2 separate regions of the Homo sapiens genome follow, and region 2 is reported to be linked to region 1. The links are microRNA targets in miRTarBase. Many come from high-throughput screens and were not tested one by one. Region 1 holds a microRNA gene; the other region holds the end of a gene's coding sequence.
What was found. Region 1 holds the annotated microRNA hsa-miR-4258 (CCCCGCCACCGCCUUGG, at 828-844, shown strand). A microRNA usually pairs through its seed, bases 2 to 8, with sites in the 3' UTR of a target mRNA and lowers its output. Matches are read on the target gene's strand: a 7mer-m8 pairs with bases 2 to 8, a 7mer-A1 pairs with bases 2 to 7 and ends in A, and an 8mer does both.

Region 1 (3,149 bases):
AGGAACTGAGGCGATAGAATTGGCGCATGCGTACGAGGTGCGAACGGGCAATGGTGTGATATTGTGGAAGGCGTAAGGCGCATGCGCGGAGGTGGGAGGCGCTCGTAAAACAAAGTGGTTGCGAATTTGGAGTCGCCTCTCAGTAGAGAGGAGAGAGGGGTGGGCGTGGTTAGGGTACTGACCACCCTCACCCATGAGGCTTTCTGGATCATTCTCTGAACTTTATCGGGCAAACTTAACTTGCCTTGTAGAGACTGTTTCACAGTAATCTTGTCGAATCCAGTGGGAGAACGTAGCAAAAGCGGAGCTGGAAGTTTCCTGGCGTCCCTAACAGGAGAGTAGCGCTGAGAGAGTTGAATATTGCTTATTAACTCGTGAAAAAGACAAGGGGCGTGGTTGTCTGGCTTGTGTAAGGAAGGGGATCGCTTGGGACTGCAATGGAATAAAACTGGCTAGGAGCATTGAGAAAATACTTAATATGGGTCTAATAGATGCCCTTTAAATATCAAAGGGAACAGTTACGGAATACTTAACAGGTTTCAGGTGTTCTGCTAAAGTGCAAGGATAACACATGGTCTCTGCTGTTCACAAATTTAAAAATCTGTGGGTGGTACCGACAGACACCAGAAAGGTGACACACGCTATGCAAGGAGCCATTACAGGGTGTGATGGGAGCACACAAGACTTGCTAAGGAGAGGGAACTGGCGACCCGAAGGCTGCGGCTTCCTAGCTGTGAGCGGGGGTTGAGGTGGGGCTAGAAAGTCAGTCCCCTACTTTTGCTAACTCCAGGACGCTCCCCCATCCCACGCTTCGAGAACGCCCCCCGCCCCGCCACCGCCTTGGAGGCTGACCTCTTACTTTCGGTCGGTCTTCTTCCCTGGGCTTGGTTTGGGGGCGGGGGAGTGTCCTAAGGGCCAATTCAGCGTGATGTCTCTTTCACCACCATTGAAAACGAAACCAGTAGTAAACTACGCGTGTTTTCATTTATATGTCGGAGATAAAAACACAGGGACAGAAAGAGGGGAACAACAGACATTGGGGCCTGCTTGAGGGAGGAGGGTGGGAGGAGGTAGAGGTTCAGGAAAAAAAAAAACTGTCGGGTACTATGCTTAGTACCTGGGTGATGAAATAACCTGTACACCGAACCCCCGAGTCAGGATTTTACCTATATAACAAACCTGCACATGTACCCTTGAACATGAAACTTAAAATACTGAGAGGAAAAACGGAAGAGGGAATGTTGGGGAAAGCTTCCTAGAGGGCAGAGCCTGAGATGAGACTCTAAGAAAAAGGTATGTGGGAGGAAGCACCTCTTGACTGAAATTGTTTAGAAGACACTGGATAGCCATCTGCCAAGGATGGTGATGATGGAATCCTGGCACTGGATGTGGCATTCGGGCTTGATAAATTTTAAGTGCATAATCTAGATTGGGAATAAGGGAAGACACAGGATTCCACAAATGTTGGCATTATGCTAATCTGTATTAATTGTAATAATTAAGACCACTTCCTGGTTTGTATCTTGTCTCCTCAGTTGGAGAACATAAAATGAAAACTTGCTTTTCTTGTGTCTCTTCACCCAGCCTAGTTCAGGGCTTTGGGTCTTCCAGAGAACTCGATGTGCATTGACAAATACATAATCATCTTTATGCCAAGACGGCTCCAGACCCTCCTTTAATTAACTTTCTTTTCCTCAGCTGTTTTCCTCTACATCTGAACTAAACTAACTTAAAACTGTATGTGCTTATAAGAGATTTGTGGAGCTGGGAAGGAATCACCATTTCATCCCCTGGAAGATGAAACTCTTGGCAGTGGCACTTTGGTTTAAGAGGGGTTTTTTGGTGTATGTATTGAAGCCAAATTTCGTGCCAGGGTGGTGTTAGAATGTGAGCTATTTTCATTATATTTGGACTAGAATTTTTTCTTTTAGGAGAATGGTGGGGAATCACTGTTACTAGCACAGAGGGAGAACTTAGTACATTTTCATTGAGCATGACGAAGACTATGTGGATTAGTTTGATTCACATCAGGGTAATAATTTTTTTGCTATGAAGGGAGACTTATCCTTGGTTAGAAAAGCACGGAATTTACCCAGAAAGTCTCAAGGTACATCCCTCCAGAGTTAGGAAAATAAGATTCAGGATAGATTTAATTTTTTTTTTAAGAGACAAGGTCTTGCTTTGTTGCCCAGACTGGAGTGCAGTGGCTATTCACAGGCACAACCATTGTGCATTGCAGCCCTTTCTTTTTTCTTATTTTTTTTCTCTTTTTTTGAGACGGAATCTCACTCTATCGCCCAGATCTCAGCTCACTGCAACCTCCGCCTCCTGGATTCAAGGGATTCTCTCCTGCCTCAACCTCCCAAATAGCTGGGATTACAGGTGCATGCCACCACACCCGGCTAATTTTTGTATTTTTAGTAGAGACGGGGTTTCACGTTGTTGGTCAGGCTGGTCTCCAACTCCTGACCTCAAGTGATCCACCCACCTCAGCCTCCCAAAGTGCTGGGATTACAGGCATGAGCCACCGCCCCTGGCCTATTTCTTCTGTATTTTAATCAGATTTCAAACTTCATACTGTATCTTTTTCAAACTCCTGGGTTCAAATGACCCTCCTGCCTCAGCCTCCCAAGTAGCTGGGACTGTAGGTTTGTGCCACCATGCCTGGCTTAGATTTTAAAGGACAAGATAGTTCATTTCATCCTTTGTAATAACTTGTCCACACAGTACTTCATAAAAGGCCTTTCCTCGCCACAAAATAACTTCTCTTCCTTCCTTCTAATTATTAACACTGTGTGCTCCGTGGGGCTCCCATTATGTTGTAGATAATCAACTAGAAGACTATAAGGTCCATGAAGGCGGAGAAAATGTGCCTTGAACTTAAGTGCTCATTCACTGGAATTATTCACTAATTTGTATTTTTAATATACTCTCGGAATTTATATAACATAGCCTGTATTTCTAGCTGCTGCTACCCCACAATAAAATTATATAAACTCTGACATCAAAAACCAGTTTTTCTTTCCTTTCTTGGCCTTGTAAACAGGCATTTGTCTAAGAGACTGTATCTGGTACTAACATAAATTCCCCACTTCCCCGTTTCTGTTACAGACATGTCATGCTGCCCAAGGACATAGCCAAGCTGGTCC
Region 2 (3,000 bases), not on the chromosome of region 1:
CTGATTTGCCTGTAGTTCTGTATACCTCTTTGGGAGCATCAATAGCTACTGGTATTTTATTTCCTGTGCTATATAAATTAGCCACTTCACCTCTTGATCGCCAGCGAAAAGAAGACAGAAAGAGTGAGGACCAGAAAGCTCTGCTCTCTAGCTCCGGGCTAAATGAATATGAGGAAGAGAATGAAGAGGAGGATGCAGAAAAATGGAATGAAATGGATTTTGAAATGATTGAAACGAATGATACAATGAGGCATTCTATAATAGAGACATCTAGAAGTAGTCTGACGGAGCCCACAGCTGAAGTCTATAATCAATACCCATCAAATGCACTGGTGTTTGAGTCTTCTCCTTTTAATACTGGCAGTGCCCATGTGAAGCACTTGCCAGAAACCAGGACAAAAGGGACTAACGTTTAGAGAAGATGGATTACTCACTGACATCTTTGAATAACTGCCACTTCTAAGGACGCCATTCAGAGCAGAGCATTAGCAGAATTTCACCATGCTTTGGGGATTAAAATTTTTAGGTCCATATTATAGCAAATGCTAAAAATTTTTGAAATGTTCTGTAATTCCCAGAGTCTTCCATAAATAACCAAATGGTCTCATACACGTACAATAGGATCTTGTTATAACGCTATCATTTGACATGTGACTGATTAGGAAATATTTTATGGTCTCCACCCCTCAGAGCACCCAAAGAAGGCATTGTTTTTGAGAAGGGGGGTATTCTCAGAATGAGACCATGTAGGAGTTGAATTGATTGGTTGAACAAATTATCAGGTATCAATATTTTTCCAGGAAAGTTGAGGAGAATAGTTTCATAAAAGAGAAATGGGCCGGGTGCAGTGGCTAAAGCCTGTAATCCCAGCACTTTGGGAGGCCGAGACGGGCAGATCACGAGGTCAGGAGATCGAGACCATCCTGGCTAACACAGTGAAACCCTGTCTCTACTAAAAATACAAAAAATTAGCCAGGCGTGGTGGCAGGCACCTGTAGTCCCAGCTACTTGGGAGGCTGAGGCAGGAGAATGGCGTGAACCCGGGAGGTGGAGCTTGCAGTGAGCCGAGATCATGCCACACCGTACTCCAGCCTGGGCGACATCTAGACTCCGTCTCAAAAAAGAAATGGAGAGGTATTTTTATTAATTGCTTTACCTTATCTGTAGGGTTGGATCAAAGAATGTAATGACTCATTTGATTTCTAATTTCAATGAAGAGAACACAGAACAGGGCCCAAGGGGTCGGGCTTCAAGCCTTGACTTCTTCTAGCCCTGCACTCTGTCACTTAACGTAGGCCTTGTTTATCTCGCCTCCTGATCTGTGATTCTAGAAATGAAAATGAGATGATTTCCAAATTGGGAATCTGTAAGTTTTAAAGTTTGTGCAAAATGTCTGCTAGAAATTAGTACAAGTGACAGCATGTTCTTCATTTCAAATGAGAAGTGAAACCAAAATGATAAATAGCTTTAAGAATGTGCTAATGATAAATGATTACATGTCAATTTAATGTACTTAATGTTTAATACCTTATTTGAATAATTACCTGAAGAATATATTTTTTAGTACTGCATTTCATTGATTCTAAGTTGCACTTTTTACCCCCATACTGTTAACATATCTGAAATCAGAATGTGTCTTACAATCAGTGATCGTTTAACATTGTGACAAAGTTTAATGGACAGTTTTTTCCCATATGTATATATAAAATAATGTGTTTTACAATCAGTGGCTTAGATTCAGTGAAATACAGTAATTCATTCAATTATGATAGTATCTTTACAGACATTTTAAAAATAAGTTATTTTTATATGCTAATATTCTATGTTCAAGTGGAATTTGGAGACACTATGTTCTAATTTTAAGAACTGTTTCAGTGTTATTAGATTAGTAGTAGGGCTGTAGATGGGGTCTTTCGAGGTCCTTTGCCTACCTCAGTAACAGAGGCTGGGTCTGAGCCTTGCTCGAGATTAGCTCTTCACCAGGTCTGTGTGGTAATCATATCGTAGTTACCGTAGGTCACGCTGCAAGTGTAATTTACAGTGAGGCATAGTCTTTTCCAGTGATTGGAATACTTGTGTCACCGATCCAGGGTTTCTCTTTCCTGAGTCTGAAATACCTGGGAAACCAGTTAGAAGGTGACTGGGTAGCCTAGGAGTCAAGGATCAGAAAGGGTACTTCATATATATGTGGCAGAATTGGTGCAGGTGATCCTTTGAAAAATGACAAGAATTGATGAAATTTTGTTTACTTCCTCCAATTTTTTGCTGAATAACATCTCCTTTCTACCTGATTGGAGTAGGCTTGCTTTCTCTTACTTAATTTCTATAAATTTGCCATTGTTTTGTCTCAAGTAAAATACAGTGTCTTTCTTGACCACTGCCCGCCCATTCACCTTATATGCCTGCCACAGTCTTGGTTCATGTAATAACCTAACAGCTTTGGAGATGGCGGTGGAGAAGTTAATGGTAAAAACCTTCTTGCTCTTTTTATTTTTATTTATTTATTAGGGGTGGGGGATGGTGTCTCACTCTGTCACTCAGGCTGGAGTGCAATGACGTGATCTCAGCTCACTGCAACCTCTGCCTCCCTGGTTCAAGCGATTCTTCTGCCTCGGCCTCCTGAGTAGCTGGGATTACAGGCATGCGCCACCATGCCCAGCTAATTTTTGTGTTTTTAGTAGAGAGGGGGTTTCATCATGTTACCTAGGCTGATCTCAAACTCCTGATCTCAAGTGATCTGCCCACCTCAGCCTCCCAAAGTGTTGAGATTACAGGCATGAGCCACTGTGCCCAGCCCTTTTGCTCTTTTTATAGTGTAAATTTCCCTCAGTTAGAACTTGGAAATTACTTCTGCTTCACTTACTGCCTTTTCTCAGGTTGTTGGAATCTAGGCAGTAGCAGTTACTTGGCAGCTAGGAGGCTTGCTAGAATAGGAATTCCACCTTCAGCATTTACTGTTACAGGGTAGAAGATGCAGCTCAGGGAGAGAAGGATGATGAT

Region 2: miRTarBase lists SLC60A2 as a target of hsa-miR-4258. The part of its 3' UTR that is shown has no 7-base or 8-base seed match.

The regions. Positions count from the first base shown.
Region 1 is chr1:154,974,876-154,978,024 of GRCh38, forward strand. It overlaps MIR4258 (microRNA 4258), which reads left to right and starts at 818; the gene lies at 818-908. It overlaps CKS1B (CDC28 protein kinase regulatory subunit 1B), which reads left to right. Exons shown (of 3, transcript NM_001826.3): 2 at 3,112-3,149. RefSeq lists enhancers at 1-51, 152-211.
Region 2 is chr6:111,266,704-111,269,703 of GRCh38, forward strand. It overlaps SLC60A2 (solute carrier family 60 member 2), which reads left to right. Exons shown (of 4, transcript NM_153369.4): 4 at 1-3,000. The coding sequence ends at 416. Among named protein-coding and RNA genes, the nearest start is that of SLC60A2, 8.9 kb to the left of the region's middle.